Homo sapiens: one gene and its partners. The protein of the gene in region 1 interacts with the protein of each later gene in a biochemical or structural test. Each region holds a gene or a part of one and is shown on either strand. Other genes may lie near its edges. The genes, in order: PAK1, CDC42, CTTN and BAD.

The links.
Region 2: the proteins of PAK1 (region 1) and CDC42 form a complex in vitro, tested with the Homo sapiens proteins (11 studies listed by BioGRID and IntAct, with this or other methods).
Region 3: of the proteins of PAK1 (region 1) and CTTN, one has a biochemical effect on the other in vitro, tested with the Homo sapiens proteins (one study listed by IntAct).
Region 4: of the proteins of PAK1 (region 1) and BAD, one has a biochemical effect on the other in vitro, tested with the Homo sapiens proteins (3 studies listed by BioGRID).

What each region holds. Positions count from the first base shown.
Region 1 is NC_000011.10:77,321,016-77,325,041, reverse strand, and holds the end of PAK1 (serine/threonine-protein kinase PAK 1), read left to right. Parts: intron 1-1,681; coding exon 1,682-1,768; 3' UTR 1,769-1,887; coding exon of another isoform or gene 1,888-1,905; 3' UTR 1,906-3,025; downstream 3,026-4,026. UniProt on the Homo sapiens protein: Protein kinase involved in intracellular signaling pathways downstream of integrins and receptor-type kinases that plays an important role in cytoskeleton dynamics, in cell adhesion, migration, proliferation, apoptosis, mitosis, and in vesicle-mediated transport processes.
Region 2 is NC_000001.11:22,055,709-22,064,156, forward strand, and holds part of CDC42 (cell division control protein 42 homolog isoform 1 precursor), read left to right. Parts: intron 1-8,448. UniProt on the Homo sapiens protein: Plasma membrane-associated small GTPase which cycles between an active GTP-bound and an inactive GDP-bound state. In active state binds to a variety of effector proteins to regulate cellular responses. Involved in epithelial cell polarization processes.
Region 3 is NC_000011.10:70,421,645-70,430,092, reverse strand, and holds part of CTTN (src substrate cortactin), read right to left. Parts: intron 7,585-8,448; coding exon of another isoform or gene 7,541-7,584; exon of another isoform or gene 7,154-7,540; coding exon 7,098-7,153; intron 4,762-7,097; coding exon 4,692-4,761; intron 4,397-4,691; coding exon of another isoform or gene 4,314-4,396; exon of another isoform or gene 4,006-4,313; intron 1,043-4,005; coding exon 894-1,042; intron 1-893.
Region 4 is NC_000011.10:64,281,545-64,290,985, forward strand, and holds the start of BAD (bcl2-associated agonist of cell death), read right to left. Parts: upstream 3,122-9,441; 5' UTR 3,087-3,121; exon of another isoform or gene 2,833-3,086; 5' UTR 2,825-2,832; coding exon 2,638-2,824; intron 1-2,637. Other genes in the region: integral membrane protein GPR137, read left to right, coding at 4,966-5,337, 5,421-5,470, 6,177-6,402, 6,521-6,670, 6,796-6,924, 7,059-7,177, 7,599-7,821. UniProt on the Homo sapiens protein: Promotes cell death. Successfully competes for the binding to Bcl-X(L), Bcl-2 and Bcl-W, thereby affecting the level of heterodimerization of these proteins with BAX. Can reverse the death repressor activity of Bcl-X(L), but not that of Bcl-2.

The DNA of each region.
Region 1 (4,026 bases):
ATCATAAAAGCTTCACATCTGTTTCTCCTGTGAGAACACACTTATAGACAGAAATACATAGAATGATATATATTGGAATTCATATCTTCATGATTTAGCTAGGATCTTTTATTCCTTTCATAGTAATAGTACGTTCTTGTTCTCAGTAGCTCTTTATACTATCTCTGTCCCAACAGAAGTTGCAGCAATTCTCAGCAAAGAATATTAGTATATATGTTTCTCTCTCTTTCTCTTTCTCTCTCTCTCTCTGTCTCTCTCTCTCTCTGTGTGTGTGTGTGTGTGTGTGTGTGTATACATATATACAATATGACTAATCAAGGGAATTGTAAGTATGGCAGAAGAATCAGATATGCTCATGTGAGTTGAGTAGTTATGTTTAGAGGTCAAATCTGGTTCTCAATTTCCTGGTAGCCAGGGCAGAAAAGGAAATGTGATAGCTCCTATATTTTTTATCAAATAGAAGAACATCCTACAGCTTTAAGACACAAAGCTTTTTTACTACTAAATGTTTAAAAAGAAAAAAAAGCACCATTTTTAAGAGGCTCTGAGAATTACATAAGGAATTGTTAGACCAGGCACGGTGGCTCATGCCTGTTATCCCAGCACTTCGCGAGGCTGAGGCCAGTGGATCAGTTGAGGTCAGGAGTTTGAGACTAGCCTGGACAGTATGGCAAAACCCCGTCTCTACTAAAAATACAAAAATTAGCCAGGTGTGGTGGCGGGCGCCTGTAGTCCCAGCTATTCGGGAGGTTGAGGCAGGAGAATTGCTTGAACCCAGGAGGCGGAGGTTGCAGTGAGCCGAGACCGCACCACTGCACTCCAGCCTGGGCAACAGAGTGAGACTCCGTCTCAAAAAAAAAAAAAAAAAAGGAATTGCTTTCTGTAACAGTTTTACTGAAAATTTAGATGCAATTTTCATATAATATTTTCTCCTAAATAGTCATTAAATGTTGAAGGTATGGCCCAAAGTACAGCCCAGTGAAAGTGATTTGGGAAAGGACCAAGCTACTGAACTTTTTACTGAATGATTAGCATTATTGGATTTGAGGATAGAACAATAAATTCCTAGATCAATGCTCCTAAAATGCAGTATTGCGATATACTACTGGGTCATGATCTATTAATACCTTCCCCAGAGGTAATTATTATTCTGATTATCACCATGGTTAGGCTTACCTCGGAAGAAATGGAATAATACAATATGAACTTGCTTGTCTGGCTTCTTTCCCTTAATGTGTCTGTGAGATTCAACCCATTTGTCAGTGTACCAATTACTTATTGTATTGCTGTGTAATTTTCTGTATAGTATTATATGAATATAACACTATTCATTTTTCCATTCTCTTGGACATTTGGGTTCTTTCTGGTTATTGGCTATTATAAGCAAATCTTTTATGAACATTTCTGTGTATGTCTTTTGGTGGCTATACAAACTAATTTCTCTTGGGAATATACCTAGGATTGGAATTACTAGAGTATAGGTAGATGTATTTATCTGTAAGTAGATGCTGCCAAACAGTTTTCCAAAGTGGTCTGTTTTAAGATGTCCTTCAATTTGGGGATGATCAGAAGCTTTCCACACAGCACCCTTTACAAACAAAGATGCCTTTATGTCTTGTAATGGTTACTGGGGAAGAATGTTAAATAGTCATGTGTCTTTTGCTATTTTTCTCCTTTCTAGCATCAATTCCTGAAGATTGCCAAGCCCCTCTCCAGCCTCACTCCACTGATTGCTGCAGCTAAGGAGGCAACAAAGAACAATCACTAAAACCACACTCACCCCAGCCTCATTGTGCCAAGCCTTCTGTGAGATAAATGCACATTTCAGAAATTCCAACTCCTGATGCCCTCTTCTCCTTGCCTTGCTTCTCCCATTTCCTGATCTAGCACTCCTCAAGACTTTGATCCTTGGAAACCGTGTGTCCAGCATTGAAGAGAACTGCAACTGAATGACTAATCAGATGATGGCCATTTCTAAATAAGGAATTTCCTCCCAATTCATGGATATGAGGGTGGTTTATGATTAAGGGTTTATATAAATAAATGTTTCTAGTCTTCCGTGTGTCAAAATCCTCACCTCCTTCATAACCATCTCCCACAATTAATTCTTGACTATATAAATTTATGGTTTGATAATATTATCAATTTGTAATCAATTGAGATTTCTTTAGTGCTTGCTTTTCTGTGACTCAACTGCCCAGACACCTCATTGTACTTGAAAACTGGAACAGCTTGGGAATGCCATGGGGTTTGATAATCTGCCAGGGACATGAAGAGGCTCAGCTTCCTGGACCATGACTTTGGCTCAGCTGATCCTGACATGGGAGAACAACCACATTTTTCTTTGTGTGTGCTTCTAGCAGCTGTTCGGGAGGACCTTGACCCAATAGTGTTCCCATGCTGTTTCTTGTGAAATGCTCTCGGCTATGTAGCAGCTTTTGATTCCCTGCATACCCTAGGCTGCTGCCCCTATCCTGTCCCTTGTTTATAACATTGAGAGGTTTTCTAGGGCACATACTGAGTGAGAGCAGTGTTGAGAAGTCGGGGAAAATGGTGACTACTTTTAGAGCAAGGCTGGGCATCAGCACCTGTCCAGCTCTACTTGTGTGATGTTTCAGGAACTCAGCCCCTTTTTCTGCCTAGGATAAGGAGCTGAAAGATTAACTTGGATCTTCTAATGGTCCAAATCTTTTGGTCACAATAAAGAGTCTCCAAATTAGAGACTGCATGTTAGTTCTGGATGGATTTGGTGGCCTGACATGATACCCTGCCAGCTGTGAGGGGACCCCGTTTTTAAGATGCATGGCCAAGCTCTCTGCAAATGGAAATGCTTACACTGGGTGTTGGGGATGTTTGCTACCTCCTGCTATTTTTGTGGTTTTGGTTCTCCCACTATGGTAGGACCCCTGGCCAGCATTGTGGCTTGTCATGTCAGCCCCATTGACTACCTTCTCATGCTCTGAGGTACTACTGCCTCTGCAGCACAAATTTCTATTTCTGTCAATAAAAGGAGATGAAAATATTCTATTGGAGTATGCCTTTCTTTTTTCTCTTCGTTTTTTCTTTCCTTTTCTAATTTTTTATATGAAATAATGAGTAGTTTCTTCCTGAACCATTTGAGAGTGGTAAGTTGCAGATAGAATGCCCCTTTACCACTATATACCTGAATGTGTATTCTTTCTTTTTAACACTTTTATTTTAAATATAAATTAAGAGAAATGGGCCAAAACCATTTGTATTGTTTAAAGAATAATTATAAACACACTTGTATCCACCAAATCAAGAAATGGAACACTGACAGTAAGAACCTTCTCTATCTTGTCCTTCCTTTCTCATTATAGCCCCCACCTAAGAGGTAACCACCATCTTGACTTTTATTTAAATAACTTTCTTGCTTTTCTGTATACTTTCATCACATTCAGGTGTGTTCCAATACAAGTAGATTTTAGTTCGGCCAGTTTTTGAACTTTAAATAAACATATCATAATAGATATATTCTTTTGTGCCTGTTATTGTTTCCACTCAAGATTATGTTTTTAAAATATATGTACCTAGTTTGTGTGTAGCTCTAGTTCATGTATTATTCCGGCTGTAGGCACTTGAGAGGAAAGTTAACTTGTCCAAGATGAATTCCCTGAGGACTGGCCTCCCAAAGGATTTGGTTTTCTGCAGAACTCTATCATAATGGACTACAGCCAACTGCTCAAGGCAGTCATACCTGGTAGAATTCTCAGGTGGCTAATTAGGCCATGGGTCTATCACATCCTACAGCTACAACCATAAGGCTTGAGCCCCAGCTCTGATCACACCAGAGAAAATGCTTCTCAAAGATGGCACAACAGAGCTAGAGGCCAGTGTTCTGTCGTGTGGTTTTACTATTGGATCCCAGCACCTAATACTACTAGAGAAGATGTAGTGCTTCTTAGGTGTGCAAAATATAATCCCCATGGCTCAATGCCTGTAGTCCTTCTCCGGAGTATGATATCTGGGCCCTACTACATTTCTTTGCCCCAGAAGGTGATGGGC
Region 2 (8,448 bases), on another chromosome or scaffold:
GAATGCCTGAACTCAAGCTATTTGCTCCTGTTGGCCTCTGAAAGTGCTGGGATATAGGCATGAGCTGCTGTGCCGCTGACAGGCTTTCTTGGAAGTAAAAGACTAGTTGTGCTTTTATTTATAGATGTATTTTAAATGCACTTCTCTATTGTTTTAGAGTTTTTTTTTTTTTTTTTTTGAGAGGATGAGAAACAATGAGCACCTTAGGCTACAGGGCTTCCTTTGAAGGGGAGAGAGGGTTAAATATTGTGTTAACATATCTTCCATGAAAATATCTCTCTGTATTAAAAGGCTTCATTCTGGAATTTTATGGTAATGCCTTATTCAGTGTTCTCTTCCACATAGATTTCCTCATTAGATTGTAAGTTCTGTGAGGGCAGGGCTTTGGCCTGGCATGGTCACCCCATTGCTAATGCCTAGAATACTGCCATACATACAGTAGGTTTTAAGAAATATTTTTTAAGTGAATGAATTTGATGATGTCTGAGGGTTAACGTTTTCCCTAATATTCCATGGGCCTTTTTGCTGTGTTTCCTGAGACAGCTTTTGTGCTTGGTCAGCCATATCTTTATTTGGGCTCATTGAAGTAGTGATTACTAATCTACTCTTGCTTGACTTTTTCCATCTGTTTAGGTCAGTATCTTCTGCAGCTGCACTGTCTGGACAATTTACCATCACTTAGAAAATCTGTGATGACTACTAGTTCTCTTACTCTCCTAAAAATTATTCACTTAATGTTTGTTTCCTTATCTTCCTTTATTTCTTTGTTTGCAAATAACTTTTACCGCTTGTTCACTACTGTATCAGATTCCTGGTCATGTTATGCTTTGTGTCTTACTAGTTTCTACTTTTAGTTTCTCATACCTTCAGTCCAAAATATTTTTACTAAAGCAATTTTCATTACTTGCCATTTCAGCTACCTCTGCTGCTGCTGCTGCTATTTTAAGTCCTGAATGTCAAAACTCTTCTGGGACATTGATCTCAAACTGCTTATTCCGTGAAGTGAAACCAGGCTTTCTGCCACCAATGTGGCGTCCCTTTTTGCAATTTTAGAAAAATATTTTTTAAATCAAAGATTTGGCATTAGCCATTATACTAAAGTCCAGAACAATTTCTAATAGAGCAGAAAACTATATTGTTCAGCCATGGTATTCACTAAGCACTGGTGCTCTATCACCTTAAGACAAAGTCTGATTTAGGCTCTGTTACTGTTGTTCTGTAATGCTTTACACTTTAACCTTGCATCCTTTTCTGTAAAATTAAGCCATTGCCATTTGCCATTTCAATTCTGCTGTGTGTTCTTGATTGGTATATTGCTACTATAATGATTAAAAGCATAGACTCTGGAACCAGACTGCCTGGGTTCAGATCCTGGTTCTGCCACTTATTAGGTATGTGCAGTCTAAGTAACGTCTTTGTGACTCAGGTTTACTTCCTCTAAAATAGGGGTAGCAGTAGTGCTTACCTAACAGGGCTGCAGTGTTAGGAAGATTGAATTAATATATATGAAGTGTTTAGGACTGTTCACTGGCACATAGTGAGTGCTGTATAGATTTTTGCTCTTGGCACAACTGTGAGGACCCTTCCCCGCCATCTTTGAGAAGCTGTGTTTCTCTCAAACATAAACATTTTAATAACCATCCTTCTCCCGGACTAATCTGATGAATCCAAAAACATTTCTTTTTTCTTTTTTGAGATGGAGTTTTGCTCTTGTTGCCCAGGCTGGAGTGCAATGGCGCGATCTCGGCTCACCGCAACCTCCGCCTCCTGGATTCAAGTAATTTTCCTGCCTCGGCCTCTTGAGTAGCTGGGATTGCAGGCATGCGTCAGCGCCCCTGGCTAATTTTGTATTTTTCGTAGAGATGGGGTTTCTCTATGTTGGTCAGGCTGGTCTCCAACTCCTGACCTCAGGTGATCCGCCCGTCTCGGCCTCTCAAAGTACTGGGATTACAGGCATAAGCCACTATGTCTAGCCCAAAAACATTTCTAAATGAAGTGGAGATTGCTTTACCTTTTTTTTTTCTTTTTTTTTTGAGACAGAGTCTCGCTCTGTCACCCAGGCTGGAGTGCAGTGGCATGATCTTGGCTCACTGCAACCTCTGCCTCCCGGGTTCAAGTGATTCTCCTGCTTCGGCCTCCTGAGTAGCTGGGATTACAGGTGTCCGCCACCACACCCGGGTAATTTTCGTATTTTTAGTAGAGGTGGGGGGGTTTCACCATGTTGGTCAGGCTGGTCTGTAACTCCTGACCTCACGTGATCTGCCTGCCTCGGCCTCCCAAAGTGCTGGAATTAACAGGCGTGAGCCGCTGCATTCCGGCCTCCTTTACATTTTTATCCGTTACCTTTACCGTTGTCATAGAAGCAAGGGTGTCAGGCCTCAGGTATGCAGTATAGTCTGTGGACCCATCAGCATAAGTGTCACCTGGGAGCTCATTAGAACTATCAGGATTCATCCCAGTCTTACTGACCCAGAATCTTATTTTAATAAGATCCCCACATGATTTTTATGTGTATTAAGGCTTGAAGCACCCTCTTCAGGACTGCTAGAGTGATGTCTCAAATTTCGGAAACAATGTGAATGCTTTATTTCATTTTATTTTCCTATGGAAGCATAACCTGGTTTATTTTAGGCAGTGTACCACAATTTATTGCAAGGATCATAATCTGAAAATGAATCTGAAGCATATTTAGTTTTTAAAGGAATTGTTGCTTCCTGCCTATTACGTAGAATTGCCTCATGTCTGCCCATTATCAGGAACTAATGTGTTATTTAAAGTTTTTTTTTTTTTTGAGATGGAGTTTTGCCCTTGTTGCCCAGGCTGGAGTGCAATGGCATGATCTCCACTCACTGCAACCTCCACCTCCCGGGTTCAAGTGATTCTCCTGCCTCAACCTCCCGAGTAGCTGGGATTACAGGCATGTGCCAGCATGCCTGGCTGATCTTGTATTTTTAGTAGAGATGGGGTTTCTCCATGTTGGGAGTTTCTCCATGCTGGTCAGGCTGGTCTCAAACTCCCGACCTCAGGTGATCCACCCACCTTGGCCTCCCATAGTGCTGGGATTACAGGCGTGAACCACCGCACCCAGCCGAATTACGTATTTTTTAATTTTATTTTTATTTTTTAGAGATAGAGTCTTGCTATGTCACCAGGCTGCAGTGCGTGGTGTGATTATAGCTCACTGTAACCTTGAACTCCTGGGCTTAAAGGATCCTCCAACCTCAGCCTCCCAAGTAGCTGGGATTGCAGGCACGCACCACCACACTTGGCTAATTGTAAATATATATATATATTTTTGTAGAGAATGGGGCCTTTTTATGTTGCCCAGGTTGTTCTTGAACTCCTGGCCTCAAGTGACCTCCCACCTTGGCCTCCCAGAGCTGTGGGATTACAGTTGTGAGCCTCTGCACCGGGCCTTAATTTTTTTTTTTTTTGAGACGGAGTTTTGCTCTTGTTGCCCAGGCTGGAGTGCAATGGCGCAATCTCGGCTCACCGCAACCTCCGCCTCCCAGGTTCAAGTGATTCTCCTGCCTCCACCTCCCTAGTAGCTGGGATTACAGGCATGTGCCACCACAGCACGGGGCCTTAATTATACATTTGAACTTAAGTGACATTTTATTGAAAACTAATTGTGGTGACGAGGAATGGTCTAAGCATATGATTAGGATAATTCATATTCATTATGAAAACTTAGGTGAAATACAGACTTGGCATTTAGCTTGTCAAATGTAAACATGTTTTCTGCTTTCTTTGCTAAAATCATATTTCCAATTTCAAGGGAAAATGTTAAGAACCAAAATCATCTTTTTCAGCTACCCGCCTGAAAAAATTATTGCTATTTTTCTTTTCTTTTTTTTGAGAATTCTCGCTCTGTTGCCCAGGCTGGAGTGCAGTGGTACGATCTTGGCTCACTGCAACCTTGCCTCCCAGGTTCAAGCGATTCTCTTGCCTCAGCCTCCCAAGTAGCTGGGATTACAGGCGCACACCACCATGCCTGGCTAATTTTTGTATTTTTAGTAGAGACGGGGTTTCACTATGTTGGACAGGATGGTCTTGAACTTCTGACCTCAGGTGATCCGCCTGCCTTGGCCTCCCAAAGTGCTGGGATTACAGGCGTGAGCCACGGCTCCCAGCCTGTTATTTTTCAAGGGCCAGATTGAATTTATTTCTCTGATATTTCCTTTTTCCTTCTTTAACTATATGGTGTAGGAGAAATTCTCCAGGACTATCCCTGAGAGCTGGGGGATCAGTGTCTCAGGAACACCTGTGTTTATTACCTGTGTCCATTCTCTGTGTCTTAAGTGGCCATTTGAAGCCATCTACGTCCTTTTCAATTGAAAGATTATCAGTAGGCTGGGTGCGGTGGCTCATGCTTGTAATCCCAGCACTTTGGGAGGCTGAGGCAGGCAGATCACCTGAGGGCTGGAGTTCAAGACCAACCTGGCCAACATGGTGAAACCCCGTCTTTACTAAAAATACAAAAATTAGCCATGGTGGCATGCACCTGTAATCCCAGCTACTTGAGAGGCTGAGGCACGAGAATCGCTTGAACCTGGGATGCAGAGGCTGCAGTGAGCGGGGATGCACCACTGTTCTCCAGCCTGGGTGACAGCTGAGACTCCGTCTCAAAAAATTAAAAAAAAAAAAGATTATTGCAATTCATTACTCCATGTGGAAGGAGGAGAGGTGTCTGAGAACAGATCAAATGAGGAACAGATGATTAAACCAGAGGGAGATGGAGGTGGAATAAAAGAATATTATGTTAATTAGTGTTAAGGGGTATGAGAAAAGAGGATAAATTTAGTAGAAGAAAGCATAAACAAGATTTCAGCTATGGTTCATTTGCTTTGCTGGAAGACAGTTTAGGAGTATTTGTAATATTTTTAGTTTGTTTTTAATCTATATAAAAGCAGATGAAGAGGAGTGGGAAGTGAAAGAATAATGTTACTTGAATAACACTTATCTCTGGTTTCAGGGATTTTCATTACAACTTTACTAGTATTTGTTTCATTAGCTGAATACTATTGGAGAAGAACTCAGTTTTAGATAAATTCTGAAATGGAATTAATACATTCATATCACTTGCTTGCCTAAAAAACATTTTTATTATAGGGTTTAAGATTAACAAGATTTTAAAATAAGTGATTAGATTTTAGAATGTGTAAAGTTTGGTTTATAACTTGAAAGGATAGTTCTATGGATATCAGTGTTTTTTTATTTTGCTATTTTATTCGTGCTGTTTATTTGCTCTGTTCATCATAGGGGCAAAGGAAATGTTAGATCATCCTAATAGTTGATAAGCTAGTAAAGATGAGGGTAGGGGATAATTTTAGAGTAAGGCCTGTGTGGCTTAGTGTGTTTCAGAATATCTGAAAGACATTTCCATGGGCTTGGGTGTCAGATAAATTAGAAACCCAGCCGGGCAGAGTGGCTCACGCCTGTAATCCCAGCACTTTGGGAGGCCATGGCGGGCGGATCACCTGAGGTCAGGAGTTCGAGACCAGCCTGGCCAACATGGTGAAACCCCGTCTCTACTAAAAATACAAAAAATTAGCCAGGTGTGGTGGCATGTGCCTGTAATCCCAGCTACTCAGGAGGCTGAGGCAGGAGAATCGCTTGAACCCGGGAGGTGGAGGTTTCAGTGAGCCGAGATTGCACCACTGCACTTCAGTCTGAGTAACAAGAGCAAAACTCTGTCTCAGGAAAAAAAAAAAAAAAGAAACCCTTTATTATATCTTCATCCTGGAAATCATAATGTATATAAGTTTATTTTAAAGGGTTAGGGAAGTTAGACGGTCAATCAGTTTAACTTCATGTTTCTTTCTTTTTTTTTTTTTTTTTTTTTTTTTTTTTGAGATGGAGTCTTGCTCTATCAGCCAGGCTGTAGTGCAGTGGCATGATCTTGGCTCACTGCCACCTCTGCCTCCCGGGTTCAAGCAATTCTCCTGCCTCACCCTCCTGAGTAGCTGGGATTACAGGTGCCCGCCACCATGCCCGGCTAATTTTTGTATTTTTAGTGGAGATGTTGGCCATCTCCACTTTAGTGGAGACCGTGTTGGCCAGGCTGGTCTCGAACTCCTGACCTCAAGTGATCCGCCCCCTTCAGCCTCCCAAAGTGCTGGGATTACAGGCGTGAGCCACTGCGCCCGGCCTAACTTGATGTTTCTTAAACTTGTTTGATGACGTTTCATCCTCCCCATCACCCCTATGGAACACCCTTTTTTATTTTATTTATTTCTTTTTTTTGGAGAACGGATTCTTACTCTGTCACCCAGGCTGGAGTGCAGTGGCGTGATCTTGGCTCACTGCAACCTCTGCCTCCTGGGTTCAAGCAATTCTGCCTCAGCCTCCCGAGTAGCTGGGACTACAGGCATGTGCCACCATACCCAGCTAATTTTTGTATTTTTAGTAGACACGGGGTTTCACCACGTTGGCCAGGCTGGTCTCAAACTCCTGGCCTTAAATGATGTGCCTGCCTTGGCCTCCCAAAGTGTTGGGATTACAGGCGTGAGCCTCCATGCCTGGCTGTTTGACCCATTTAAAAAATGGCTTGTGGTTTATAAGACAAATTGTTTGAGAATCTGAATGTAGGTACTTCTACCTCATCAGCTAGAACAAAGAAAGTCTAAATAATCATAGTTTGTTTTGTAGTTGGCATCTCACCTCATAACTTTTAAAAGAAAGGTTCTGAATTTGTCACGTTTGCTGCCTAGGTAATGTAGTGACTTATTTTATGCTGCAAATGTCTGCTTGTTTAGGATTTCTGATATAGGCTGGCATGATTTCATTCTTGTAGACTTACGACCAAATTACTCTGTGCTGATTCTGAAAAGATTTGTCTTTTTGGTGCATGTATAAGAACATAAGTTGCCTGATCTTAAGAGTTTTTTTCTGATTGGGTATGGTGGCTCATGCCTGTAATCCCAGCAGTTTGGGAGACCTAGGTGGGAGGATTGCTTGAGGCCAGCAGTTTGAGACGAGCCTGGTAGCCTGGTCAACATAGTGAGACCGTGGCTCTATTTAAAAAAAAAAAAAAAAAAAAAAAAAAAAAAAAAAAGATTTTTTCCGAACTTATCCATTTGTCTATGGTACAAACCTATCCTCTAATTTTTCAAACCAAAAAACGTCTTTATAACTTTGTCCTTAAACACTCCACCTCCAACCTGATGACCTATTCTCTATTTCTATGCTACTACCGCAGGGCAGATCCTCCATTTCAATCTTAGATTATTACCCTAGTTTCTTAGCTGACTTCCTTGACTATCTGGTTGTCTTTGGCAGCCCACCTTGGAATACAGGCACAATATTGATACTCCTAAAACACTGTTCATGGATATGGAAGAAGTGACTGTTCTGCTTAGCTTTTAGAGTCTATATGACTTGGACTCATAGTTTTTTTTTGTTTGTTTCTTTTTTCCACTTTGCATGCTTGCTTGTGCCTTTTCTCCTGATACTCCTATCTAACTAGAGATTTATTTTCACATTATTTTAGATTACTCTCCCATGTTTACTCTGAAAATCTGTGGCACTCATATTTCATAGTGTAAAATTGTAGCAATCTGAGACTACTACAGTTGTTAGCCTCTTCTCCTTATAACCAGTAAAGTATACTAGATGATGTATGATGAACTTTCTAGCATAGAATTTGGTACAGAGTAGGCATTTAGTAAATTATTGAAATGTGTTAAAGGCCTTTGAAGGCAAGATTTCTGTTACCCAGTGTAATGCTGTAGTAGGCATTTAGATATCTTACTTAGATAACTTTTGTAATAAGTTAATAGGATTTCGTTCTTCCAAGAACCTACTCTATTTTAACAGATGTTTTAGGTCCTAACTTGTGTCCTAATTAGATAGAGAGGGTCTGTTAGGTGCTTGGGATCTTGTTCTTCAACTGCACACATACCAGCACAACTACTGTTAAATTTCTTTTGCGCTTTTTTCCCCTTTAGGACAAAAAAAGGATTTAACAGTTATGTGCTTTTAATAACATTGTATTACTTTGTTGGTAACCTTCACAACTTTTTTTTTTGAGACAGAGTCTTGCTCTTGTCATCCAGGCTGGAATGCAGTGATGCCATCATGGCTCACTGGAACCTTCGCCTCCCGGGTTCAAGTGATTCTTGTGCCTCAGCCTCCCGAGTAGCTGGGATTACAGGTGCGAGCCACCACACCGGCTACTTTTTGTATTTTTAGTAGAGATGGGGTTTTGCCATGTTGACCAGGCTGGTCTGGAACTCCTGACCTCTTATGATCTTCCTGCCTTGGCCTCCCAAAGTGCTGGGATTACAGGCGTGAGCCACTGCGCCAGGCCTTCACAGTCATCTTTAGTATGTATAACATTTCATCCTGTGGTGTATTATTACTTGTTTTTTTTTTGTTACATTAACTGTTTTGATGATACAGCATCTCATTGTTTCTTGATAAAGTATTTCCTTCTTTTTGGATAAA
Region 3 (8,448 bases), 6.9 Mb from region 1:
CACGGTTCCTGGCATCTATGGCCTTGCTTGACCCCAACAGGACAGTTGTAAATTCCCACGTCACCTGATGCCATCCACAGGTTAAACACCCAAAGTAGCACGTCCTGTGTGGCCCTGCAGGGGCAGGGCCTGGGGTGGATAGGAGAAGCCCAGGCTTCCAGACAGGCTGGGCCTGCCCCACACTGCAGATGCCCCAGCTGCAGAACCACACCTGGTAACTTCACACACACACATCTGTAGGCCTCAGGCTCTATTCACAACCCCCCTGATCCAGCTGAGCACAAGGAAAGTCCTTGTCAGTGGCAAGCCACCCAGGCTAGACCCAAAGCACCCAGACACAGGCTCGTGCTCCGCCCCTGCCAGGGGTGCACTTCTGGCATCTTTCTCTGGGAGCGCTTCTCCACAGCCCAGGGGCTTGGGTGAGCGGGGCTGGGCTGGCCAAGCAGAAGCAGGCCCCGAGAGCAGGCTGCCTCTGCACAGAGTCCCCTCCAAACCCCAAACTTCCACCTGGGAAAGGAGGGGCTTCCAGAGGGGGAGGGGTGAGAAGAGACTCAGGCTGACATTTGGACAGGAGCCCCGTGGAGGTGGAAGCCGACAAGACTCTGCCGTCAGCTCAGGGACAGAGGGCAGGGCAGGTTGGCGGGTCCTGGGGCTGGACCGGCAAGACCAGGATAGCGCTAGCCGGCTGCCTGGAGCATTGTGGCCAGAGACTCAGCCTATGTGTGGCTGCAAGTGACAAGTGCCTTAATGGAGAGCCTTAAAGGAGAGTTAAACATGCCTTCCAAGGAAAACCTGGCCAGGAGAGAATAAGCCCCGCCCAGGCCCCAGAGCTCCCAATCCCCTCGGCACAGGTCCCAGGGAGGGTGCGCTGCGGCCCACTCCTTGCCACTCACCTCCAGCTTCCTCCTGGCCTCTTCCTGCTCCTGCCGCTCCTTGGCCATCCGCTGGGCTCTCTCCGCCTCCGCCTTCCGCCTGTCCTCCTGCTCTTTCTCCTTAGCGAGGTTTTCAAAGTTAGCTCTGATGTTACTTGTTTTGCTGGTCACTATAGAGGAAGGAGGGAGGACGTGTGCCTTGAGCACAGCAAAAACACTGCTCCTGGACAACAGCCCCACCCACACAGAGTGACCTCCCCAGGAACCGGTCATCCCCCTAACCCCCAAGGAGGGAAAGGTTCTTGCAGCTGCCAGCTCAGCCCACTGGTCCGGAGCCAGCACTGGGCACCTGCCGCAGGGCACTGCGTACCTGGTGGGACTGGCAATCCCCCTAAGCCTGGCATCAGGAAGATCTCTAAATAAGACGGTATCTTCACCACCACACTCACCTTTTTAAATAAAAACAGCCAATTTCCCTTAAAGACATCTGTCCTTGATAAAGCAGTTAAGGTACTGATGTATACTGTAATTGACGTATACTGAGTATAGTAAATCTCAACCAGAGTATACATTTTTTTATATTGTGTGTGACAAAAATGGAAAAGAGGGCAGTGGCTCATGCCTGTAATCCCAGCACTTTGGGAGGTTGAGACGGGAAGACTGAGATCAGGAGTTTGAGACCAGCCTGGGAAAGACAGTGAGACCCCGTGTCTATTAAGAAAAAATGATAAAAATTTAAGTCAAAAGTGGGGAATATGGCCGGGCATGGTGGCTCACACCTGTAATTCCAGCACTTTGGGAGGCTAAGGTGGGCGGATCACGAGGTCAAGAGATCAAGACCATCCTGGCCAACATGGTGAAACCCTGTCTCTACTAAAAATAGAAAAATTAGCTGGGCTTGGTGGCAGGCACCTGTAATCCCAGCTACTCGGGAGGCTGAGGCAGGAGAATCGCTTGAACCTGGGAGGCAGGGGTTGCAGTGAGCCGAGATTGTGCCACTGCACTCCAGTCTCGCGACAGAGCGAGACTCTGTCTCAAAAAAAAAAAAAAAAAAAAAAAAAAAAAAAGTGGGAAGACACATGAGCCTTCCCTGCTGTGTCCGGGACTGTGGCGGTGGCTGTCTGTGTCTCAAGGACCATGAATAGAACCATGAGAGCTGCAAGTTGACTGTTTTCTCATGGAATAGCGTTTTTCCCTGAAATAACAACTGACAGTCCAACTATGGTTATGCAAAGCTGGGTATCTGGCAACAGTTTTCTCCCAAGTGAATGAACTAAGCCTATTGTGTCAAGAAAAATTACTGGAGTATTTGTTGCCAACGGGAAAATTCCAGCTTTCAAGTAAAAGACAGAATTTTGAAAAATGTGAGGCTGCCACATGAACATGCTGATTTCCACTCAGCTTCTGCAGATGAAATAGATGATGACAGCAAATGTGATTTTTTTTGGTATTGTGGAATGAGAAGTGTCCACAACTGGAAGACGAGCACAACTCAGAGACCCAGCATTTTCCAAATGACCAACACACAGTGCTGCCCAAGCACAGTGGGTAGCGAGTCCCTCACAGGGCCAGAGGAGCCGGCCTGCAGGACCACCACTGCCTGGCACGCTTGGGCGGCGTCGCAGAAGGACACCCACGCTGCCCTCAAGGTTACAAACACTCCTCCCTTTCCCAATCGCCTACCTAGGTGATTCCACATGTTCTTCCTAAACAACGTAACATCGATAGACTGCAGAGGCAGATGTGAGAGTGCAGCCATCTTCTATTAAAGAGATTTACAAAACAAAACAATGCCGGTCTTCTCACTAAGTGCTGGGATTACAGGAATGAGCCACTGTGCATGGCCAGTTATATTATTATTTTTATTTTTTGAGATGGAGTTTAGCTGTTGTCGCCCAGGCTGGAGTGCAGTGGCGCAATCAAGGCTCACTGCGACCTCTGCCTCCAGGTTCAAGCAATTCTCGTACCTCAGTCTTCTGAGTAGCTGGGATTACAGGCGTGGACCACCATGCCCAGCTACTTTTTGTATCTTTAGTAGAGACAGGGTTTCACCATGTTGGCCAGTCTGGTCTCAAACTCCTGACCTCAGGTGATCCACCCACCTCGGCCTCCCAGAGTGCTGGGATTACAGGTATGAGCCACCACACCCGGCCAAGGTTTATTCTTTTTAAGTGAACCAATTAATAACTTTCCAATGTCGCTCATGCCTGTAATCCCAGCACTTTGAGAGGCCGAGGCAGGTGGATCACTTGAGCTCAGGAATTCAAGACCAGCCTGGGCAACACAGTGAGACCTCATCTCTACTAAAGATAAAAAAATTTGGCCGGGCACAGTGGCTCATGCCTGTAATCCCAGCACTTTGGGAGGCCGAGGCGGGCAGATCATGAGGTCAGGAGATCGAGACCATCCTGGCTAACACGGTGAAACCCCGTCTCTACTAAAAAATAGCAACAACAACAAAAAAATTAGCCGGGCGTGGTGGCAGGCGCCTGTAGTCCCAGCTACTCCGGAGGCTTGAGGCAGGAGAATGCCGTGAACCCGGGATGGGAGGCGGAGCTTGCAGTGAGCCGAGTCCGCGCCACTGCACTCCAGCCTGGGCGACAAAGTGATACTCTGTCTCAAAAAAAAAAAAAATTTAACTGGGCAGGGGGCATGCGCTTATAGTTCCAGCTACTCCAGAGGCTGAGGCAAGAGGACTGCTTGAGCCCAGGAGACTGAGGCAGCAGTCCTGCCTGGATGACACAGCAAGACCCGGTCTCAAAATAAATAAATAAATAAACCATTCCTCTCTCTCTTTTTTTTTTTTTTTTGAGACGGAGTCTCGCTCTGTCATCCAGGCTGGAGTGCAGTGGCGCAAACTCCGCTCACTGCAAGCTCCGCCTCCTGGGTTCACGCCATTCTCCTGTCTCAGCCTCCCGAGTAGCTGGGACTACAGGCGCCCGCCACCATGCCTGGCTAATTTTGTTTTTGTATTTTTAGTAGAGACGGGGTTTCATCGTGTTAGCCAGGATGGTCTCGATCTCCTGACCTCGTGATCCGCCCGTCTTGGCCTCCCAAAGTGCTGGGATTACAGGCATGAGCCACTGTGCCGGGCCACATTCCTCTAATTTCTAATATAGTCAATGTCATCAAATACATCAACATCTTGGGGGTTCTCACGAGTGGTCAAAGTGTCAAAGCGTCCTGGGCCCTCAATCTCTGAGAACTGTGGGTCCATAGCCCCTGAAGGAAGTCAGTGGTGGCTCTCTGCATCCTGTGTTAAATTTAGCACTTGCTCTCATGTATGTATAACATTTTCCCCAACTACTTGACTCTCCGGGGCAGGGCCCACATCTGACTCCATCGTGTGTCCAGCACAGAAAAGGACAGGTTTCGAGCTCCCTGTCAAGGGCCCAAGAACGAGCAGCAGAGAGAATGTCTGCTGTCGCCTGCACATCGACGTCATGATGTCTTCCTCCTGTCACAGCTGCGACCGAGCGGCTCAGGGAGTTGGGCAGGCCCCAGCTGCTCCCAGAAGCTGGTCACTGGCAGTGTGGAGGCCCTTGTGAATGTGCACTTAGCCCCTTTGCTCTGGGAAGAGCCCCTTGAAACGGGCCCCACTGAAACGGCTGCACCATGCTGCGTCTAAAAGGTGACTCTAAACCTCTGCAGGAGAAACAAGATCTTCATCAGAACGATCATTTTCTTTCCCAAAAATACGCAGCAACAACCACGCTTTCAACTAGTGGTGCATCTGCTCCTGGCTGTTTCACAACTGTCCTTCCCCTCAGTGTTTTCCTGGGAAACCACACGGTGCTCCTGGTATCAGCCGGGACTCACCAGCTTCGACAGGTACTGTCTTCTGGTAGGCAGAGGACACCTGGGTGACATCCTCAAAGGTTGACGCATTCTGCAGAGACAGGACATGGGCGTCAGGAGAGCACTTTTCTCTTTTCTCCATGCCCTGTGGTAGCTCCTGCCAGATGCAAATGCCTTCCCCAGATCTTCCCAAAGGCCCAGCCACACAGCCCAGAGCACTCTTCATGGCCTCTCGGTTTTGCAAACTAACTGAGGCATGAAAACTATTACCAACCACATTTGCAGGCAATCGTGGGTCAGCATTAGCATAAGAAATGCATGTATCTCCATCTGCTCTACCACAAACCAATTCTGGGATCAGCCTCAAGCCTTCCCCACCCTCCGTCGCCACCCAGAGGTGTGAGCATTTACAGGAAGCGAAGACGCTGGGGACACATGCAAGCCTCCAGTGGCCCGTCCTACACACTACCCAGTGGTGCAATCACACCTTTCTGCATTGCAGGGGACTCAACTATGGTCTGACCAAGCGACGGCGATGACTCTTACGTGCTGACTCAGGTGGAGACTGTCAGGGCTCATGGAGACCAGTGGCCGTACCCAGTTTCACTGTGGGTTTCACTACCTCTGATGAGAACACCTGAGGCTCAGAAGCCACCAGAGCCCCCATACCATGGCCCCTTTCTGCCCAGCACCTCCTGCTTGCCCCCTTCCTGGCCCGCCTGTCCTTCCTCGGACCCCGCTCCCTCCTCCCATCAGTCAGCTCCAGCGTCTACTCCATGTCCCTTGAGCTGCTTGCACCTGTTCAAAGGCAAGGCCATCAGCCTTACTGGGTCCCATCACCCACTGGGCCCTCTGCAGACATCACCTTGCCCTGAGGGGGCAACTTCACCTCCCAGCCTGGGTTGTAGCCCTATCCCCACAATGTATGGGGACCCGGGCAGTTACGTCACCCTCTCTAAGCCTTGGACTCCTCCATCACACAGCAAACAGAGAGAGAAGCTCCACCCCCTCCTGGATGAAAGACAATGACACGAAAGGCCACACCCACACACTGCCTCCTCACGTGCTCACAAGCTCAGCGGTCACCGCCAACACCAGCAATGCTGACCACAGACACCCACAACACAGGCAGTCCCTCAGGTTCCGGCCTCAAAGCCACAACCTCTGACTCACCCACAGGGGAGCTCCTTCCCTCCGTCTGTCCCAGTGCCTTGCAAGGCCCCTGCTACCTCACTGGGTCCCCCTGCCCAGTGTCCTCTGACCGCGTGCCTACTCCCCTCCCAACTCTGCACGCCACCCGGACCCGGCCCCGGCCCTACCCCAGCTCTCTCTCGCTGACACCCACATCTGCTCCTCCCAGTTCTTCGGCTCCACAGTTGGCCCCACGTCCACCCCACATCCACCCGACTGCTCCCTCCCCTGCGTCCCTTGGCGCCAAACACCATGCCCTGCTTCTCCACCACCCGAGCCCCTCCAGCTCTCTTCAGGACCACACCCCTCTGCCCAGGCCAACCCCCACAACCCAGACTCCACGCTGAGGCCGGGGGCTTCTCAAAGTAGACCCCCCCAGTGTTCCTTGCCTGCTAACCTTTCTGGGGCCACGCACGTCAGATGCTCTGTGGTGTGTGACGCATGTCACGACATGCAGAATGCTCTGTGGTGTGTGGGGCTCTCCAGGGCCAGCTCTATCCCCGCTCCCCACCCTCCCTCTGCAGCTAGGCTCCTTGAGAACCTGCAGTGACTCCTGTCCCACCCAGGCCCACACCTCGCCCCTCCGTGGTCTCCTGAGCCTTCTCTCCTGGTGAACTCGCGCCTGCCCTCAGAAATGAGCCCAGGCTACTGCTCCCTGGGGAGCCCAGCCCGAACACCTGCTCTGCCTGCCTACGCCCCTGGATGGTGCTGTGTGGTCAGCTGCGAGGCAAGGACTGACCCTGCCACCCCTGACCACAGGCCACGCGCAGGAGCAGGCAGTGTGGAGCCCGCGTCTCTACGAGGCTGAAGACGGGAGACATGGCTCATCACCGCACACGCAGCGCTGGCTGCCAGCGAGGTAGCCCCACACGCAGTCTAACACACTCAGGTTCCAATCTGATTTACTATTAAGAATTTAAGTTCAAATGGACATGAGCCCTCGAGGCTCTCACCTCTCATGTTAAACATCTGGGTTCCTATGGCTGCAGCCAGGTGCTGAGCCTGCCTGGCCTGGGGCCCCCAGTTAGGAGGTGGGCCGGTGCCAGCGCCTATCCCACAGCACGGCCATGAGGAGCACAAGACTGTCCGAGTCAGTCATCGCCACCACCACCACCACCACGACGGAAATCACTTGTGCCCCACCCCAGCGCGTGGATGTTGGCCAGCACGGTGAGCCACGCCCACCAAGAGCCCCTGCAGGCAGAAGACACTAAGCTCCGGGGCTGGAATATTTACCTTATCCATCCGATCCTTCTGCACCCCATACTTCCCGCCGAATCCTTTGGAGTAGTCTGAAACGTGGCAAAACACAACACTTACTCTGAGGTGGAGGCGAGCATGGGGGTGGCCGTGGGTGCATGCAGACAGATCCAGAAACAGCCCAAGAAGGTGCACCACAGCGGGAAGAAACGAGAATGGCCAAGCGAGGCTTCACTTGCAAGGCAAGTTTTGCTTCCACCCATGGTCGTGAGACACAGGCAGTGAGAAGCAGAGCACAGGCCAGGGGCAGAGGCTTCAGCATTCCCTGAGGGGCAGGAGGGGCAGGAGGGGCGGCGGGCAGCAGGCAGGAGCTAAGCGAGGAAAGAGGGCACGGACAGGCCTTTGCAACGCGCCACTTCAATAGCACAGTCTTCCGCACCAGCACGGGCTTATTCTCATCTGCTTCCTGTGCGCCTGCTCTACTGAGCGCTAAAAAGAGGCTCAATCGCAGTTTGTTCTCTTGCTTTTTAAGAGAAAAAAAAAATCCATGTGGAAATTCTACCAGCCAAAGACTTCCGTTGCAGCAACACAGATCCACATGAAAGTCACACTGTCATGCAGCAGTGATGCCACGGAGAGCCACTGCCATCTCCATGCAGTCTGCGGGACCACCCCAGGTGTGTCTACCTGCCCACACCTGAACACTGCTGTGTGTTTCTAACGCTGCAGGTGGAAAGCCTAGAGTCTTCCCTGCAAGGTTAGGGAATTACTGTTTTTCCAATTATGTGTTCAGGTTCTAATAACCAAGTCCAAATTTTGAAGGTAACAACATAACTGCTCTAAGGAAGGATGCAGAGCTGGCTTCACGTACATACTGTGTGGCTCTGTGTGGAGATGTTACACACATATGGTGTCATCAAACAGAACAAACAAAAAACCTCCCAACCCCGGCCAAAAACACCACCACAAATGAAACACAGAAACCACACAGAACACGCCTGTCTCCTGGCCCTTGCTGCTACGAAGCCCCTGGTCAAATGGCCAGTGGTTTGGTTGAACCAACACCTCTCTCCTCATCTGGAAGGCCTGACTCAGTGGCTCACGGCAGTCACCAATAACAGCAGAACAGCCTCGGGCAGAATGCTGCTGGAGACCGGAGATGCCCCAGTCCAGAGACTGGATGGGTCACCGGGTTAGAAAGATGGCACCCACACACTAACTGGCGCATCCTGCCATACACAGATCACAAGTTCACAGGGAAGAAAGTGAACCACTCAAAATCAGTGTCGCTCTACTAGAAATGGGTTTAAAGTGCCGAACAGCCTGACAGCTGACAAGTGGTGACACAGGAGGACTGTGTTGCAGGTGCTGACGGTGAGCCCTGAAG
Region 4 (9,441 bases), about 13 Mb from region 1:
TAGGCCCACCCTAGCCAGGAGCAGGTGTTGCCCTCGAGGCCTTACCATCTGCCCTTCTCTCTGCCTGGAACTCTCTTCCCATCATCCCTGTGGCCTTGGCTCCAGTGGTGCTTCTCACCAAGGTGAGTGCTGACCACCTCTGCTACCATCACTCCCCCCGCCCCTGTGACTCCGGATTCTCTTAACTCTTTTTTTTGAGATGAGTCTCACTCTGTCGCCAGGCTGGAGTGCAGTGGCACGATCTTGGCTCACTGCAACCTCCGCCTCCCGGGTTCAAGCGATTCTCCTGCCTCAGCCTCCCGAGTAGCTGGGACTATAGGTGCGCGCCACCATGCCCAGCTAATTTTTGTATTTTTGGTAGAGATGGGGTTTCACCATGTTGGCCAGGATGGTCTCCATCTCTTCACCTTGTGATACGCCCACCTAGGCCTCCCAAAGTGTTGGAATTACAGGCGTGAGCCACCGCGCCCGGCCTCTCTTAACTCTTTTACATGCTGCCCCCATACAAATCTTCTCACGCATGATAGGATGCTTTTGTGCTTGTTTGCTCATGGCCCCACCAGCTCACTAGAAGGTAAGCTCCACAAGGGCAAGGATTCCTGACGCTTGGGTTCACCGAGGCCCCCTAGCAACTGGAACAGCCTGTGTCACACGGTGAGCACTCACTGTGTGGCGCGAGTGAATGCTGAGTGTGTGTGGGGGGCAGAGAGCAGGGGAAGTTTGTGAGCAGAAAAATGGCCAAGTGCAAGCTCAGGAAGTTAAAGAAAGCTGTGGAGGCTGAGCATGGTGGCTCACGCCAGTAATCTCAACAGTCTGGGAGGCCAAGGTGAGAGGATTGCTTGGGCCCAGGAATTCGAGACAAGACTGGGCAACAAAGCAAGACCCCACCTCTACAAAAAATAAAAAATGAGCTGGTGTGGTGGCATGCACCTGTGGTCCCAGCTGTTCTGGAGGCTGAGGCAGGAGGATCGTTTGAGCCCAGGAGTTTGAGGCCTGCCTGGGCAACAAAAGGAGACCCCGCCCCTGCCCTCATCTCATGAAAATGTGAAAAATGCTGGGCATGGTGGCTCACGCCTGTAATCCCAACACTGTTGGGAGGCTGAGGCGGGTGGATTACGAGGTCAGGAAATGGAGACCACCCTGGCTAACACGGTGAAACCCCATCTCTAATAAAAATACAAGAAATTAGCCCGGCATGGTGACACGCGCCTGTAGTCCCAGCTACTCTGGAGGCTGAGGCAGGAGAACTGCTTGAACCCAGGAGGCAGAGGTTGCAGTGAGCCGAGATTGCACCACTGCACCCCAGCCTGGGCAGCAGAGTGAGACTCCGTCTCAGGAAAAAAAAAAAAAAAAAAAGAAAAAGTAAAAAATAAATTAACTGGGTGTGGTCCACACACCTGTATTCCCAGTTACGTGGGAGGATCACTTAAGCCCAGAAGTTCCGGGCTGCAGTGAGCTGAGATCGCACCTCTGTACTCCCTCCTGGGTGATAGAGCGAGACCCTGTCTCAAAACAAAACAAAACAAACAGAAAAAAAGAAAGCAAGCTATGGGGTCCAATCTGAGAGAATCGAGTGTGGGTGTTTATCCGTAAGAGAGCGAGGGGAAAGAGGCCTCTTAAGCCTTCTTAATCCTGAAAATGGGGAGGAGGTCTTTTAAGCTGCAGTGCCAGAGTGACATGACCTAGTTTTCTATTTTTAGAGATGGGGTCTGGCTATGTTGCCCAGGCTGGTCTTGAATTCCTGGGCTCAAGCCAGCCTCCTGAGTTGCTGGGACTACAGACATGTGCCACCCCACCCAGCTTGACCTGGTTTTTGTGTTCAGAAGATATCTGTTGTTGTTCCAGGTGCCAAGGCCAGTGCTGGGCACAGGGGTGCTAGAGCCTACTGAGAAATGGACATAGAACCCCAGTGTCCATCCTTCCATCTTGGAGCCTGTGCTTCTCACCCCACACAGCCCTGCTGTCTGGGAGGACTGTCTGCCCCTTGAGGTCATCTGCCCCTGGCCACTGTGCCAGGACAGTCCTGCTGTGGGTACGAGCCACAGGGCAAGAAAGAACACATCTGGGAGCTGGAAGGCCTAATCCCAGGGAAAGCATGTAGCCTGGGGCAGGGCACCAAGGAGGCTTCCAGCCCCCACATTCTAAGGAAAGAAACACCAGGAAGGTGTGGCCTTAGGCAGGCCCCTTTTCCTTTTCGGATCACTGCCTGCCTGTCACTGATTTCTGTCCTAACCCCACACTAATAGCTGCTATATATATATATATGTATTTTAAGAGCTGGAGTCTCCCTAAGTCACTCAGGCTGGCCTTGAACTTCTGGGCTCAAGCGATCCTCCTGCCTTGGCCTCCCAAAGTGCTGAGATTACAGGTGTGAGCCACCACGCCCGGCAGCAACCATTTTTTAGCTTTAATGTGCACCAGCTCTGTAATCAAGTGCATCCTATATGTTCCTGCTAATTAACTCAACAGTCCTACAATGGTGGTTATTAATTGCTGTTTTACGAAAGAGGAAACTGGGGCTCTGAGAGTTTGGGGACCGACCCAAAGCATTCAGTGCCTGTGGATGCAACTGGGATGCAGGGAGCCAGTGGGCTGGGGGTGAGGTGTCCCGGCAGGTGGAGGTGGTGGGGTACTTACCTCCATGATGGCTGCTGCTGGTTGGCTGCTCCTGCTGGTGACTGGCGTCCCACAGGAGGCCTGGGGCCTGGCGATGATGCTTGCCGGAGCCTGAGGGCCCGTCCCCTGCGGGGCTGGGGCCCAGGCCCCTCTCTGCAGAGCTGGAGTCTTCCTGCTCACTCGGCTCAAACTCTGGGATCTGGAACATGCTCTGGGCTGTGAGGACAAGATGTTACGTAGTCAAGGCACAGCTGGGGCCAACGGTGGCCCTGGAAGGCAGAGGCAGGTACCCCTGGCTTCCTCTCCCACCGTAGCGCCCCCAGGCCCGCCAGGCCTCCTGGGCCCTCATCTGTCTGCCGGGTCTGGCCTGGCAGGGAGCTGAGGCTGTCGGCTCAGGACCTCAGTCTCCCCTCAGAACCCCGGTGGACCCAGGCCCCGCCCCGCCCGTGGTGACGGCGCACAGGTCTCACCCCAAGCCCGATCTCGAGGCCCCTGACCCGGGCCTGCCGCCTCCCTCCAGCACCCCGGGCTCCGGGCCCTAGTTGCTTGGGCAACGGGAACTGTCAGCGACCTGGCCCAATCACCTCTCGGAACGTCACTCGGGTAGGTCCAGAGGCGGGGTCAACCCGGCCCGGCCCCGCCCCCCCGCCGGATCCAAGGCTCCTCGTCCGCATCCTTTTTCCTCCCTCCTTCGGCCCCGGGGCTCACATCCTCGCTGCCTCACACCTTGGGCGTGTGTGGGAGCAGGAGAGGGATTCTCTGGGGTCCCCATTTGGAACCTGGAGACCCACTTCTGCCAACAAGTCCTTCAGCCCCTCTGGGCCTTAGTTTCCCCCCAGTGAAGTGGGGATAGTGACAGCTCCCCCGGGAGCCAGTGAAAACTTTGTGAAGGGAGTGATTACTGCGGGCGAAGGCGCTTGGCACAGCCACAACTGAAGCTCAGCCGTCGGATGTGATTATTGTTGCTATTGTTACCGCTCCGCCTGGACTGGGTGCCCGGTCGGAAAGTCCCGCTCCCCGCTCCTCCTCCCAGGCGCGGAAGCTTCGCGCCGCCCGCCTCGGGGGACACCTCCCGCGCCATCTCGGGGGCACTGGAGATAAGGAAAGGAACCTCCTCCCTGGCTGGGATGGCTGCCCGGGCGCGGGAGGAGGGCCGGGGACCCGGTGAGGGAGGACCGTAGGGCCCGTGGGGGCTTCACGCCTGGCAGGCGGCCGGCCAGGTGAGCAGGGCCGCGGGCGCGCCGGGGCGAGGGGCGGGCCCGCGCGGGGGATTCGGGGCTCCGCGGGTTCAGGCCCGGGGGCGGGGCCCGGGGGCCATCTTGGCTATGGGCGGAAGTTTTCTTCAGAGACCGAGGGACGGGAATCCGTTGCCGCCCCCGGCCGGGCGGCACGACCCCGATTTGGGTATAGGAGAGAGGAGCGTGGGAACTGGCGGACCCCCATACAAGTAAAGGCGGGCGGCACGGGGCACGGCCCACCCGGGGACCCCCTGGATGCGGCACGGCCCCCGCAACTCGGCCGCCCTCCTGCCGCCTCCCGTAACCCCGGGCGCCCGCCAGCGGCGCAGCTCGCGCCAATTCTCGTACGGTTTCACGCCGGGTGCGGCGCTGGACTGCGGAGCCAGCCGGGCCGCTGCGCAATTTGCGTAGCGAACGGCGCCCGCGCAGGCGCGGAGGGGGAGGGGGGCGGAGCAGCGGGAGCCGGGGAGCCGGAGCCCCGGGTCCCCACGACCTGAGCCGGCTCTCCCATCAGCGGCCTGAGGACCTGGCGTCCGCCTCCTCCCTCCCCTTGAGGCTGGAGCGTGGACGCGGTGGGGGAGGGTGGGGCGGGGGCAGCTTTCGAGAATTACGAGGACAGGAGGCAGAGGCCCTCCCCATCCGCATTATTGGAGGAGAGAGAGCCTCCCCCAGCTTGGGGAGGGGGAGAGCGGGGCATTGGGCGCCCCTCGCAGCGGCCGCTGCCCTGACCCGACGGGTATCAGCCGGCTCTCCCCCTCCACCCAGGACGACATGAACGACCGAGGCCAGGGAGTCCTCTCCTTGGGCCTCTGCATCCCCCCATCCTTGGCTCTGGGGTAGGCCCAGGGAGGAGACACCCCCAACCCCTATCCGGTCTGTCCTGGAGAAAAGAGACTGCCCTTCCATGCCCCTGAGTGAGGGGCCTGGGGCCCAGGCTGCCTGTGTTCCCCAAGGGCAAGGGTCTCTCTGTTGAGGAGGAGGGGCCTGTCAGCCACAACTTCTTTCCTCCTGAGCGCCCCATCTCCCTCTCTGCACCCTGCAATTCCCACCCCTCCGTATTTATTTCCCTGGTCCCGCCGACAGTCCCTCCTTGTCTGTCTCCGGGATTCAGGCCTCCCTCCCTGACATGGAGAGTAACCTGTCTGGCCTGGTGCCTGCTGCCGGGCTGGTGCCTGCGCTGCCACCTGCTGTGACCCTGGGGCTGACAGCTGCCTACACCACCCTGTATGCCCTGCTCTTCTTCTCCGTCTATGCCCAGCTCTGGCTGGTGCTTCTGTATGGGCACAAGCGTCTCAGCTATCAGACGGTGTTCCTGGCCCTCTGTCTGCTCTGGGCCGCCTTGCGTACCACCCTCTTCTCCTTCTACTTCCGAGATACTCCCCGCGCCAACCGCCTGGGGCCCTTGCCCTTCTGGCTTCTCTACTGCTGCCCCGTCTGCCTGCAGTTCTTCACCTTGACGCTTATGAACCTCTACTTTGCCCAGGTAACCAACTGTGGTCCCGGGTGGGGGGCGGGAGGTGGCAAGCCTCAAGGACCCACAGGAGTGAAGGGCATCTCTGCTCCTAGGTGGTGTTCAAGGCCAAGGTGAAGCGTCGGCCGGAGATGAGCCGAGGCTTGTAAGTACTCGGGACACTGGTGGGCTCAGCCTCCAGGTCAGGGGCAGGTGACAGTCCCATGTAGATCCCTTCCCACCTCTCAGGGCTGAGACAAAGGCAACCCAGGGAATGTCTGTGGAAGATCTTGGAAAAGTTAAAGCACCTGGCGCAGATGGCTCAGCAGAGGCCTTGCAGATCTGCAAGGCACAGGAATAGGAATGCTTGTGGTAGTGTGAGGGAGAGGGCCCCAGTGTCATCCACCATGGAGGGCGAGCTGGAGGCTCCAGCCCATGGAAGCACCAAAGCCATATGCACTCCTGGGTGACCTGGGGCCGCAATGCCCTCGTCATTTGTACAGTGTCTTACGGTTTATAAAGAGCTTTCCCAGCCATCTTTTATTTGTACAATTTCCCTGAGAGGCTACTATCCTCCCTTGAGAGATGAAGAAACTGAGGCCCAGCCAGGTAAGACAGCAGGATCAAGGTCGCAGAGCTGGGGCTCAGACAGAGACTTCTGACTCCAGTTGGTGCACCTTCCGAAGTACCATGGCTGTCAGTCACCTTCTGACCTTTTTGGGCCTCAGTTTCTCCATCTGTAAGAGTGGAGGAACAGGGCTCAGACTGGATGCCCTGAGTTTTGTCGACATTGGGGTTTCCTGCAGGAGGTGGGGCAGGTGGTGAGTGCTGAGGGCTGTTGAGGGCCCGCGCTGACTGTGCTGTGGCTGCAGGCTCGCTGTCCGAGGGGCCTTTGTGGGGGCCTCGCTGCTCTTTCTGCTGGTGAACGTGCTGTGTGCTGTGCTCTCCCATCGGCGCCGGGCACAGCCCTGGGCCCTGCTGCTTGTCCGCGTCCTGGTGAGCGACTCCCTGTTCGTCATCTGCGCGCTGTCTCTTGCTGCCTGCCTCTGCCTCGTCGCCAGGCGGGCGCCCTCCACTAGCATCTACCTGGAGGCCAAGGTAGGGCTGCAGCACTGATGCCCAGGTGTCTTTTGGGTCTCTCGGCAGCGGTTCTCAGGGTGTAGAGGAAGCTGGGAGCCTTCTCTCCCTGAGGGTCCTCTGTTGTTACCTGTGCCAGGGGACCAGTGTGTGCCAGGCGGCCGCGATGGGTGGCGCCATGGTCCTGCTCTATGCCAGCCGGGCCTGCTACAACCTGACAGCACTGGCCTTGGCCCCCCAGAGCCGGCTGGACACCTTCGATTACGACTGGTACAATGTGTCTGACCAGGTGGGCATACGCATGTCTGCCACCTCCTTAGTAGCCGTGGCACCTTGGCCCCAGCTGGCCTGGGCCCTGTCCCACTACCCCTTTGGCGTGACTGCAGACTGGCACCAGCCCCTGCCTTCCCACAGGCGGACCTGGTGAATGACCTGGGGAACAAAGGCTACCTGGTATTTGGCCTCATCCTCTTCGTGTGGGAGCTACTGCCCACCACCCTGCTGGTGGGCTTCTTCCGGGTGCACCGGCCCCCACAGGACCTGGTAAGGGTCTGCTCCCTCTTCTGTGGGGCCAGTGGAGGGGGCGGATGTTGCAAATCCTGGGTTGGAGTCTGGGGTTGGGCCTGGGAGGCCAGTGCAGGACAGGAGTAAGTATCGATGATGGCTTCCTCCCCCAGAGCACCAGCCACATCCTCAATGGGCAGGTCTTTGCCTCTCGGTCCTACTTCTTTGACCGGGCTGGGCACTGTGAAGATGAGGGCTGCTCCTGGGAGCACAGCCGGGGTGAGAGCACCAGGTAGGAGCCGTGGCACTGCCTCAGTACCCCTGCCCTACCCGCCCACCCCGCTGGCTCCATCAAGCTATGGGGGACCGAGATAGCCGGGTCTTGCCTTCCACCCCTGCCATGGCCTTTGCTTCCCCATCTGTACTAGGTGAGGTCCCCTGGGTTCCTATTGCTAAAGCCTCCACCTCTTGCCTAGAGATGTACTTTGTCCTGGGCCCCGAAGGTCTAGGTCACAGGGGTTCTGTTCTAAGCCTGTCTTCCTCCTGCAGCTCTTGTGACTGTGGCCCTGGTCACTGTCCTGAGACTGACCCTGTTTCTCTGCTGCAGTATGTCGGGCAGTCTAGGCTCTGGGAGCTGGTATGGTGCCATCGGGCGTGAGCCGGGCTGGTATGGGGGCAGCCAGACGAAGACCACTCCTCTGCTCTTCTCCCAGGTGCCAGGACCAGGCGGCCACCACCACAGTCTCTACTCCACCCCACAGACGTGATCCCCCTCCCTCCCCCACAGAATACCCAGGCCCCAGTCCCCCTCACCCTAGGCCCCTGTGCCAAGTTTGTCTGCCGCTTCTTGCCCAGGATCCTGGGGGTCGTGGCTACCCCCTCCTCTGGCCGGCTCCTTGCTGCTCCTGTCATAGTGAGCTTGTGCCGTCCCCCTAGGATGGGGGGCATGGCCCTGGCTGCCAGATGCCCACAGCACCCTGGCATGACCTGCCACCTCTGCTTCCACACCGGAGCCAGCTACCTCTCCTGTGCCTGCCACTCAATAAACAGTGTCTGCGCCCCACAGTTGTGCACCTGTCTGTCATCTGCCTTGTGTTCCTATCACTTTTGCCTGTTTGGCCTAAGGCTGAACAGACACTAGCCCTTGAAGTGGGCTGCTAGGCTGGGCAGGGGTGACTTACCCCATCAAGGCTGGTGGGCTGGGAGAGGAGGGGCCTGCAGTTTGCAAGGGAAGGAGACCACACAGGCCTTTGTTCTCAAAGCTCTCCTGGCCCAGAATTGCCCCACTACCTCCAGATCCCTCTCCACTTGAACAGTTGCTACTCTTTCCTCAAGACCTGCGTCAACTGTTACCTCCTTTAGGAAGCCTTCTGTCTCCTGGTCAAGGGACATGGCCCCTCTGCTGGGCCCCACAGCTCCACATTACTGATTATGTGGCCATTGAGGTTCTTTGTTTTGTTTTGTTTTTTGAAGCAGGGTCTCACTCTGTCACTCAGACTGGAGTGCAGTGGCACGATCATGGCCCACTGCAGCCTCAACCTACCAGGCTCAAGCAATCCTCCTGCCTCAGCCTCCCGAGTAGCTGGGAATACAGGCACATGCCACCATTCCTGACTAATTTTTTAATTTTTAATTTTAGAGGTGGGGTTTCACCATGTTGCCCAGGCTGGTGTCGAACCCCCGGGCTCAAGCAATCCACCCACCTCAGCTTCCCAAAGTGCTGGGATTACAGGCATGAGGTACCATGCCTGGCAGCTTCTGAGTCTTAACCCCAATGGATTAGACTTTCTGGAGGCCCTGTTTCCCTATCACCACCCCAACCTGGTCTTTAGGAGTCAGGAGTTAGTCCAGGGCTTGCTGGGGAGTTGGCGCAGTGACTGAGCAGCCCCCATCTTCCTACCAGGGCGTGGGTTTGCCCAGATGTACAGGTGGTCCCCTAGCTATGCCCTCCCGTTAGCCCTCTTCTCCACTGTCCTTAGTAGCATAGTCACTGCCCTCTGCTTCCATGGCCCTGGCAGGTCTGTCTGATGGCTAGGAGTCCTTTGCTGGAGGGTCTGTCCCCTGCCCACATAGGTGGTTGTCCCAGCTTTTCAGAGTTCCCTTGGCTTATCACTGGGCCTGCTTCAAAACCCTTTACTTGGGACCATCCTGGGCACCAGGCCCTCAGGGCCTCCAGAGAGGGCATCTGAGACTCATAGAGAATCAGCTTGAAGCTGGACAATCACTTTTTGTTGAAATAAAAACTGCTAACGTTTGTGGGGCACTTTATTGTGTGTGCCAGGCTCTGTTTTGAGGATTTCTAAACACTGGCCTCCTTAATGCCCAGAACAGCACCCCGAAGTGATGATTAATCATCCCTTTTCTGTAAGTGGGAACAGGGAGACTCCAGAGTTTGGTAACCTGTTCAGGTTCCCTACCAGTAGCGGGTGGTCAGCCTCAAAGCCCAGGCTGAAAGCCATCCAGCATGAGGGCTGAGGACCCCAGCAGGCACCAGAGGGTCTTTGGAGAGGTCACAGGTTGTCAAGTGGGTGAGAACAGGGCGGGGCAAGTTCAGGA